Linked DNA regions of Homo sapiens: region 2 is linked to region 1. Evidence: fine-mapped expression QTL. A gene starts in region 1. The other region holds a variant in brackets. All regions are shown on one strand. Distances are between the middles of the regions. Region 1 holds the start of CD82 (CD82 molecule). Region 2 overlaps CD82 (CD82 molecule).

The links. PIP is the estimated chance that this variant, and not a neighbour inherited with it, causes the effect.
Region 2: its variant is fine-mapped to the expression of CD82 in T cells (TOPMed, PIP 0.99).

What each region holds. Positions count from the first base shown.
Region 1 is chr11:44,563,209-44,568,578 of GRCh38, reverse strand. It overlaps CD82 (CD82 molecule), which reads right to left and starts at 2,916. Exons shown (of 10, transcript NM_002231.4): 1 at 2,843-2,916. RefSeq lists enhancers at 1,828-1,897, 2,403-2,903 and a silencer at 2,818-3,417.
Region 2 is chr11:44,594,698-44,600,067 of GRCh38, reverse strand. It overlaps CD82 (CD82 molecule), which reads right to left. Exons shown (of 10, transcript NM_002231.4): 3 at 5,343-5,370. Among named protein-coding and RNA genes, the nearest start is that of CD82-AS1, 8.0 kb to the left of the region's middle. RefSeq lists enhancers at 697-1,197, 1,198-1,698, 3,024-3,263, 2,687-3,266, 3,267-3,845. The variant C/T (reference allele first, on the strand shown) is at 2,899.

The DNA.
Region 1 (5,370 bases):
CTGGGCTGGGATGGGAGGGAGGGATCAGCAGGCACTTCTTCTAACCATCCCGCCCCCGACCCCCAAACTTACTGCTGGCTGGCACAGGCTCCCACCTTTCGGCCCAGATGCCTCCCCTTCATGGGCAAACCCCTCTGTAGCATTCATCACCCTCCCAGCAACCCCGCCACTCACCCAATCCAGCCACCTTCCTGAGACCCTGCTATGTACCAGACAGGATAGGGAGGAGAAAGAAGTGCAAATGTGCTGGAACAGTCCCCTCCCACCCCTCCAATGGTGCCTTTGCTCTCCCTGTGGCTGGTGTCTCTTCCTTCACTCCCAGTTGCAGACATCCCCAAAGCCACCCAGACCCCTTCTTCCCAGTCACTGCAGCCATTGGTTCATTATCCCTTGACCGCTGGATCCTCCACCCCAGCACATCTGGTACAGACTGACTTTCCTAAAGTGCTGCTCTGTTGTGTCACTCCTCTCCTCAGAAACCTTCAGTGGCTCCCACTTTCTGCAAATCAGATCCAAAGTTCTTATCCTGTCATTCAAGGCCCTCCGTAAGCTGATCCCACCTACTATTCCCACTGCATATCCCCACACGTTCCCAAACTTCAGCCAGAATGAGCAACCTAGAGGTTTCTCGAGAATTCTCAGGACAGGTTGACCTCCCTGCCTCTGCCTAGGCATTTTCCTCTCCTCAAGACACTATCTTCATTCTGGCTGCCGAAATCTTCCCAGTCTGTAAGGCCCTGAAGATCCCTCTAATCCTTTTTTCATTTATCTTCCATCAGAGTCCCTGGTATTCTTGTGTAAGCCCCTTCCCGGATGGTAAGCAACCTGAGGGTGCAGGCCTTATGTGGTCGCTTGTCATTCATCGAGCAGGAAGTGGGGGTGGTGGTGGGGAGGGCTTTCCATTAAGGCTCACTAGGTAGGCTCTGTTGAAATGAACGTCTCCTCCTCCCCACCTCAGGCACCACCTACCAGACCCTCTCCCTCCCCACCATACCAAACTCCAATTTATGCCACTTCAGTGCTTGAAGAGACTGTGGTCCCATGTTGATCCAAGCCAAACCAGGACCAGGAGCCCAGAGAGAAAGTCCTATTCAAGTCTCACCCCCTCCAGGAAGCCTCCTTACCCCCACCCCCTGCCCTGGCTTCTCAAGTGTCTCACTCTTCTGAACACCTCCCCCTGCCCTACATACACACACAGTCTCCTGCACACAGCGCAGCCGCCAGTCCGTCTCTGTCCCACAGCACTTTCCAGTTTGTTCCATACTGTACAGCTTATCTCCCAGAAGATGCAGGGAGCCAATATAATGCAGCACCTTCAGCGTCCTTCAGTGTCCAACCCTGCTTAGATATCGGGTGCCCACATTGCCCCTCGCCCCCATCCCAAGCCAAGTGTGCAATGGTATAGCTGGATTCCAGCCACCAGGGCAGAACAGACCCATGAAATCTCATCTGGTTATAAGCCCTGGGTGTGACTGATCCTCTCTACAGGGACATGGTAGGGATGGGGGAGCCCTCATTGTCAGCAACTCAGGCCTGGCTAGTTCACCTCTGTATCCTCTAGCTCTCTCTAGCATATAGTAGGTGCTCAGTAAACATTTTTAGACTTATTTAACTCAACACTTACCAACCTCAAGCAACATTACAGAAAACTCAGCCACTCTTTGTTCCAGATGACACAGTCCTCATCCCTCAAATAGAGTGATGTTGGTGGCAGGTGGCAATTTCTGGCTTTCACAAGGTCAGGAGGGGCTGTAGCCAACCCCATCTCTCCAAGAAAAAAAAAAGGCTCATTCCCCATAGGAAGCAAGCCCATCACCTGCCCACCCGCATCAAAGCAGCTGTCACAGAGGGAGGTCTCACTGGTTTCCTGGCACCTTGCTAAGTAGTGTATACACATTATTCTATTTAGTGCTTGCTCCTGCTATTGGATATTGTCATTATCCCCATTTTACAGGTGAGGAAACTGAAGTTTGGAGGGGGAATGGAATCCAAATCAGTTTGATCCCAAAGCCCAAGCCTTGACCACAGAACTATGCTGCCCCGCTACTGGGGCCCAGCACAGAGCACCCACCACCTCCAGGAACAGAACCCGTCAGCCAAGAAATTAACCCCGGGTATGCTTCAAGGGCCCCTGGGGCCCTGGGCTTGACCCTGGGCCCAAGGATTGGTGGGGTTTTCCCTTCTCTTCCCCACTCACCAGTGTAAGAACTGTTCCCCAGTTTCCAACCTCCTGCTCAGGCCAGCTCACCTGGAAAAGCCCCACTGAGTTTCCAACTTGAAGTCTTAGGGGGTCCGGCTCAGTTGAACTGTTAGAATTGGTGGGAAGCAGGTGAGGCGGGAAATGGAACCTCCCTGCTTTGGCCTCCTCTTCCCCAGGGTTGGTGGGTTCGAGCCCCAACCGAGGAAACAGTGCACTCTTTAAAGCAATTCGCTTCTCTCAGTCCCATTTTGCAGGGAGAGAAACTGCAGAGGGCAACGCGATGGGAACACCTGTGGCGACCTGCAGCCTGCTCTCACCTGCCAGCTCTCACCTTCCGGCGTTTTAAGTGAGAAAGGGCAACGGGAGCGTGGAATTCACCTGGTTCACTTCCTCCTGCTGGAACCCGGGAGGTCCAGAGCCAGGTAGAGGGACGGACCCAGGATCACGCAGCTGTGCACGGCCGAGTGTGAGAACTGGGGGTTCAGGACTGGTGGCTAAAGCTCCTTTTCACCCACCAGCTGCCCCGACCTGTCACTAGTTCCGAGGAAAGTTGTCCGAGCCGGACCGCAGAAGCGGGGGCTAAAACTAACTTTGCCTATGGTTGTCCGGCAGGCTACCCCGGCCCGCTGCCCCCTTGCTCACCTGCGGGTTCTGCTTTCTGCTCCGCGCTGCAGGCCCAGCGTCACCCGCTCGTGCCTCAGTCGGCGTCGGACTGCACAGCCCGGGGCTCAGTCACTCCTCGGCCCCCTCCCGGCTGCAGCCGGGGAACGCCGCGGACTCGGCAGGCCCCGCCCCCAGAAGACACGCCCCCTCCGCCGGCCCCGCCCCCGAGCCCTTTGGGAAGGCGGTGCGCTCCCGCCGGCCAGGCCCCGCCCACTATGGCCGTACCCCAACCAGCCTCGCCCCCGGGCCCAGCTGGAGCTGAGGCCCCGCCCCGCTACGGAGTCTCTCCTCTATCCCGGCAGCCCCGCCCCCAGGTTACACTGGGGATTAAGCCCGCCCCGCTCCAGCCCTGTCCACTCACGGCGCTGCCTAACGGTCCCGCCCAGCTCCCGCCTACCTCGTCCTCCCGGTCTCCTCCCGGGCCCTCCCAGCGCCCCCGCCTCCTTCACTTTCTCCTTCGAGCCCACCCCATCCCCCGGCCCTAGTAGGGTGAGGCCACGCCCCTCCCCGCACCAGCCTGGGCTCAGCGCCTTCCTAATCCTGCCCTGCCCTGCCCCTCTCATCTCGGGCGGGTAGCCCTGGGGCCCCCACGCTGGCATTCCAGGGCGGGTGTATCCGGGTGCCGCCGGGGAACGGCGTGGGAGCGGTTTGTGTCCTAAGTCGGGGCCTCTATCAGGAGGCGGCCTGGGCCCAGGAACTTTTTGAAAATACTGACTACCATTGATTGAATCCTTGCCAGGGGCCAGGCTCTATGCCAAGCGCTGAATACAGTTCTAGCCCTTGAATTCCCACAACTCATGGGTACTCTCGTTGCGCCTATTTTACTAATGCGCAGTTTAAGGCTCAGAGAAGGGAAGTCGAGGGCTCTGAATCTCATGGAGGCGGGCGTGAGCGGGATCCAGCCTCAGGTCCTGAGTCACAGGCTTGAGCTGCCCCAGCTTGCCTGGACTGGCCCCTGGGGAAGTAGCCCAGAACAACCAGTGCTGGGGCAGTGCCCAGCAGCTGCCTGAGGTGAGGGAGGAGGTGTGGGTTGATGAGAATAGTGGCAGGAGGGGCTGTGGGCCTAAGCCCTCAAAGCTGGCTTTCTCCCTGAAGAAAAAGTGGCCCAAAATTGAGGTGGGCTGCAAGAGCTCTCTAGGTGGCTGCGGTGCCCACCCTGCGTCCCAGCCCTCTGCCCTCCCAGGCTCCAGAGGACTAGCCTCAGGCAGATTACCTGGTTAATGACCAGGGGCATTCACCTGTGCAGCTGACAAAGCTCTTTCACTTCCATTATCACAATGTCCTCTCACAACACACCGTTGTGGGAGGGTATGATTATGAGCGCTTTGTACGAGTGGAGTAAGGGCGGGAGCTGGATCCCAGCCCAGCACTGTAGTTCTCACAGCGTGGTCCTTGAACCAGGAGCAACATCATCTGGGAACTTGTTAGGAGTGCGTATTTTGAAGCCCCATCCCAACTTACTGAATGGAAAACTGTGGGACAATTGGTTTTAATAAGGCCTCCAGGTGATTCTGAATCACATTCAAGCATGAACCACTGTTGAGCAAACTGTAAAGAAGTCAGGGTGGTCTGAGAATCACACAGACCTAGGTAGCTTCCTGGTTGCGTTTTAAACCCAGGACAAGGCAAGATACTTAACCTCTGGGATGAGCCCTTAAACAGGGAATAATAATAAAATGAGCCATAACAATCATACCGATCTTGATGGTAGCTGTTGAAGATTACATGTGACAGCATTCATAAAGTATTTGGCCCACCGCTTGAATGCCGTACATGCTCAGAAAATGTTCTCTTTTCAGCAAAAAGTCTCCTTCATAGCATTCCCACACCAAGTCAGAAAAGTGAGGCTGGAGAATCCTTTAAACCCAGCAGTGTGTCATACCCGCAGAGAGACACCCTCTATCCTGCAAGTGGTTAAGATCCTAACAAGCTCCTAGATGATGTGGATGCTGGTCCGGGGACCACACTTTGAGAACCACTGTGCCATTCTGTCTTGGGCTGGGTTTCAGATCCCTACCCTACCCAGCCCATGCAAAATGGGCATAAAATTCCTCCTATTCCACCCTACTCCACACCCCGCTCCCTCCGAGCTGGGGGTGTTTGTGATGGTGTATGGCAGATGCTCCTGACAGCAATAACTTGACTTAAGCATACCCTGAGAATGGTCCTGTATGGCAGATGCACCCCAATGTGTGTTTGGAGTTTTGAGCTAAGGAATCCGGGAATGACCAACCTGGAGATTCATTCCTTATCTGTGAGGAACATTTGAACCCCGGCCCATCCTGTGGAATGCAGGGTGTACAGGGGTTCAAAGCTCTTTGTTTGGGGCCAAATGAAGGTTATCAGGTGGGGGTTGTTAGGGGGAGGGTGCTAAGTGAGAGTGATGTATAAACTGCATGCTTTTTGTAAGCGGTTGTGGCTCTCCTGCCCAGCCTGCCATGGGACTGTACAGTTCTCCTGTCCAGCCCACTGCCACCGGCCGTCCCTGTGTGTAAGTTTCCCAATAA
Region 2 (5,370 bases), 31 kb before region 1:
GGGCAGGGGGCCACAGAGGGCACCACATCCACCCTTCTCCAGCCCAGAGATGTCCAGATGGCCTCCGGTCCCACATCGCAGCAAGCCAGACACCAGGACCCTGGATAGGGAATCCCTCCTGCCTCCCATCTTGCCCCCCTCCACCATGTGTGATTCAGCCAAGCCTCCTGGTGCAGCCTCCTGCCAGGGGCACCCTTCCTGCCACATCTCCTGGCTCTTTTCTCAGCTCATCCCCCCGACTCCACCCAGTTCAGGGCCTGGGAGCTTCCCAAACAAGAAAGGCTCTGAGGAGGACCCTCCGTGGACTTGAACATCAAAGCCCAACTCATCCCCAGGTCTGAACAACAGGGTCACCTGCCACAGGAGCCTTCTCTGACCCCCTCAGGCAGACTCGGGTGCCCCCATTCTGCAGCAACCACTGTCCCACCCTTCTTAACAGTCATTCCGACTGGGTCTAACTGCTGTGTTGGTTTCTCTGGCTAAACTGTGAGCTCCCTGAGGGCAGGGCTGGCTGGAGGCAGCTCTGCATCCCCAGCAGCTCTACAGCACTGGGTGCTAAGTGGCTGGGGGAATGAATGAGCTGATGAACCAAACTGCAAATGCAGGACTAGAAAGGGAAATGAAGGTCAGGCCCGGTGGTTCATGCCTGTAATCCCAACACTTTGTGAGGCCCAGGCAGGAGGATCACTTGAGCCCAGGAGTTTGAGACCAGCCTGGGCAACACAGTGAGACCTTGACTCTACAAAAAATTTCAAAAATTAGCCAATGTGGTGGTGCATGCCTGTAGTCCCAGCTACTGGGGAAGCTGAGAAGAGAGGATCACTTGGCCCCAGGGAAGTCAAGGCTGCAGTGAACTGTGTTCATGACATGACCTGGGTGACAGGGCAAGACCCCCTCACTCTGCCCCCCACAAAAAGGAAAAAATGAATGAGGTGTTACAAATAAGGATCCCAAGCCCAGGGATTCCCTGCCTCTCTCCCATCTACCAGGGCTGAGCTCATCTCCCCAGGTGGAGTCCCAGCCAAGATCCACCATCCCATAAAGCTGGCAAAGGCTGGGGAAGTGCCTGCCATCTGGGCAAAGATGCAGGTTCCCTTTGGAGGTGGGGGTGGCCCTGTGTCAACCCACAAGGCTGGCCATTAGTGGGGGCCTGGACTGGGCCCACCTGGTGGATGACCCGTCTTGAAACTCCCACCTGTATCACAGCCCTGGGTTCCCACCTCAGCCATCATCCCATAATCTCAGGTTGGAGGCCAGCAGCTGCCATAGAGCCCCGAGCCTGGGGCTGGCCTGGGCACAGGGTCTCCATCAGAATCATTCTATCATTATCAAAGACCAGAGCCAGGACCGGCCCAAGGCACGAGGCACCTGCCTCAGGTGTAACACATGAGGAGGCACCAAAAACTCAGGCGGGTAGATCACCTGAGGTCAGGAGTTTGAGACCAGCCTGGCCAACATGGCAAAACCCCGTCTGCACTAAAAATACAATTAGCTGGGCGTGTTGATGGGGTCCTGTAATCCCAGCTACTCAGGAGGCTGAGGCAGGAGAATCACTTGAACTCAGGAAGCGGCGGTGGCAGTGAGCCAAGGTCACGCCACTGCACTCCAGACTGGACAACAAGAGTGAGACTCCGTCTCAAAAAAAAAAAAAAAAAAAAAAAAAAAAATTAAGGCCAAAAATCCATGATAACTGAACTATTAAACTTTGAAATAAAATGTTGACAGTATCAGTATTATCAATGTTTCCTTTTGCCCCAGGGCCCAGGTGGCTCAGTAGGGGGTTGCCTCTCTCCCTTTACCCTTGTACTTGCTACCTTAAAGACCACTGTGACTGATGACTACAACCACAAAGGCACGGTGACCACCCCACGTCTGCCCCCCAGTGTCTCCCACCAGAATCATCACTGAGGTATTATCTGTCCTCTCCTCTCTCCCAGTGAGACGGGCCTTGTAATTGACCTCATTTTATACACACGGAATTTTATATGAGGCCTTGATTTTATCCATCAGGGACTGGAAGCCAGATGGTGGCAGGTGAGCTATAGGGATATTTTGGATCCATCCTGGGCCTTCACCCAGAAAGCCAGTCTCGGGACAGAAAAGCCCCTGAGACACTGGGGAGGAGAAGAGTCTGCTGGAAGGTGGGTCCACCTTAATTTGCACAGCTGGGGGAAATGGGGGCTTTCCAGGACCTGGGAGTTTGGTTCCCCAAGACCTGCAACCCTACCCAGCCCACAACCACCCCACAGCACAGCGAGGCAGGGGCCAGTGCTCAGGCCCACGTCTGCTCCCTCTGCATCTCAGACCCATGTGGGCAGAGCCCCTGCCCCATTCCCTCCCACATTCACAGGGTGGGACAGGAGGGAGGACAGCCCCTACCAAAAGGGAATGGGAGGCAGGACAGAAAATCCCCTCTTGGCACACATAATCCCAAGTAGATCAAAACCCCACACTACTCAGCTGGCTCCTCAGCTTGCCAAGAGGAACCCAGAGAGCAAAGTCCCCGGGGCTACCCATTCAGTCCCTCTGTAGGTCTGATGACCCCAGCCTGATGGTCAGATGTGGCTGGATTAGCCACGGGGCTGTGGCAGAGCCAGAAAGGAGGCTGGGCAGCCTACCAGAATGGGCAAGGCACCATGGCACCCCCTTTTTCTCTGTGAACCAAGACTGGAGCTGTGGGGCAGGCCCCATGTTAATCACTCCCCCAGCCCTTCCCCAATCCCCAGATGGGACCCATCAGGAGCCAGGACCCTCAGAGCAGTGAGCGTCCTTCCCCAGCATAGCCACAGCACCAGTGCCTCTGCATTCCTTTGGACCTGAGAAAAGTGGCAATGCGCTGGGGAGTCTGGAGTCCAGAGGGAGTACAGGCAAAGACATACAGGTGCACATGCACGCAGG[C/T]GCGAGCACACATAGCAGCCACGGGGATTTTTCCAAACCACAAATCCAACCACGAAACCCCTCCCAATGTGCATAAAACAAAGAGGCAGGCTGGCCGGGTCTATGCCTGGGGAGGTGCACTCTGCCTCCACCGGCTGCCCCTGCTGCCAGGATCCCCCTCTCCAAAGCCACACCCAGAACCCCAGGAAGCCTTTGCTGACCTCCATGACCAGGCCAAGAGCCTCATCTGCTTTCCGAAGAGCCTATCTGTTCCTAGTACCCCCAACAACTGCAATTTTTCATGCATTTGAGTAGTTATTTGATGGAAGCCCACTGCTCCCTAGGACACAAGCTCCGGAAGTATAGCAATCAGGGCTCTTCCGCCCTGAACATCTGAAGATGCTGAGGTGTCAGATACACATTTGCTGAGGAGTAAACAAGCCCGTTCTGCCTCCTCCAGCCCTCCTCTTTCACTCTCACCCTCCTGTCATACAAGCTGCCCCTCCCCCCTCCACCATCCTGATGGGTCATCCTAGGCCCCAGTACACAGACAGTTAACACCTGACTCCTGCCAGCCCCTGGAGGAGCCAAAAGGAGGCCAAGCCCTGGCCAGAGAGCAGCTTTTCCAGTCCCTGGTTCCACAGGGCAACTTGCGAGCAGGACAGAAAGGGCCACCCTGGCTGAAACCACCAACCCCACTCCCTTTCTCTATGAGGGTCTCCCCAACCCCCACTGCATGAAGGAAAGTTTCTTTATCACTGAAACCCAAGCTCCGTGATCTCCTAGGCCAGAGCCCAGGCTCCTCTCTCTAGTCCCTAAAGCCCCCAGGGATAGAGCTACAGTGCCCACGCACCCCTTCCCCCGAGTCCTGGCCCATTGGCCTTTATGCTGGGTCTCCGCCCAGACACCAAGTGCTTGCCAGGAAAAGCTTGGCTTTGCCTGCACAGGCAGCTGCTTCCCAAAGTCCTAGGGCAGCCAGGAGAGACCTGACCGCCAAGCTGGGGAAGCCCAAGCCCGGCCTGGGGTGGGTTCCAGGCCCGGCTGCCATGAGCAGAGGGCCAGAGCCACAGTGGGGCCTCACAGGGTCCTCCAGGAGGGAGCTAGGGCCGGGGCCAGGGTGGAAAAAAAGCAAGGCAGGCAGCGCCAGGGCTTCCTGTGTGTGTGCATGCGTGTATGAACACTTGTGTGCGGGTGCCAGGAACACATTGTACATGTCTGTGCATTGGGTTAAAGCTGTGAAGGGGGAATTTTTAAAATTCTTTTTTTTTTTTTTTTTTTTTTTGTAGAGAAACAGGGTCTTGCTATGTTGCCCAAGCTGGTCTAGAACTCCTGGACTCAAACAATCCTCCTGCCTTGGCCTCCCAAAGCACTGGGATTACAGGCAAGACCTACCATGTCTGGCCAGAAGGGGAATTTAGAATGATTCTTGTTTATTTCCCAAACTTCCCATAAACTATGTAACTTGTAATGTAAACCCCCTGTTCCCCAAACAAGTAATTAATATCTACCGTAGAAAATTGGGAAAATACAGAGATGCATAAAGAATAAAATCAAAATTCCCAAGAATCCCAACATTAACATTGAGGTATTTTCTTCTCCTCTCAAAAATACTCACTTTTTAATGAATACGTACATTTAAAACTTTGGATCATAAGAAACATCCTACTGTACAACCTGATTTTTTTTTAACACTATAGGGTTAAACCGTCAACACAGGGAAGCCAGCGCTCCCAACACTACTCTGAGGCTATGAAGTCCTCTCCAGGGCACTGCCCCCCAACAACACACTCTCACTCACACACACACCCCACCATCCCAGCAACTCCAAGGCAAGAGGCAGTCCATGCCAGGCCAGAGAGGAAAACCGAGGCCCCAGGAAAACCAGCAGTCAATGTCCACAGAGCTGACATCCGGATGGCCCATCTGCTGGGGTGGGTCTGGGGAAGGAGGTATGTGCCCTTCACTGGCCCCACGCCTGGCGCCCTCTTGCTCTCCCTATGAGAGCTCAGGGAGATACCTTCCCACGACAGGGACGGGGGTGTGATAGGGGCAACTGGGGCCTGGAACTGTCACAGGTCAATTCTTCACATGGGCAGGGTGGGGGCCAGGACAGGACTAGAGAGATGCTAAGAGGCTTCTTCTAGCAGCTCCTGCTGTTGAGTTAGGGGGATGCCCAGGGGCTCTCCTCTCCTTCCCCATACCCACCGCCAGCCCAGGCTTTGGGTGATCTAGGAGAGGGGAAGGCCGGGTCAGGAATCCAGTGCTTGGTCAAAGGACCAGCTGGGAATGGCAGGGAATCTCCTCACCACCCCAACTAGGTTCCGTTGGAGATAGTTCGTCCTCAGTCCCTACCCACCAAATCCCCCCAATCCCCGGCCCGGTCGGCTCTGGAAAGGCTCAGGCTGGGATGCCCCTGGAAGGAGAATCTTTTCGGAGGTGGTCAGGACGGCATGGGACATACTTACAAAGAAGATCAAGTTGAAGAGGAAGAGA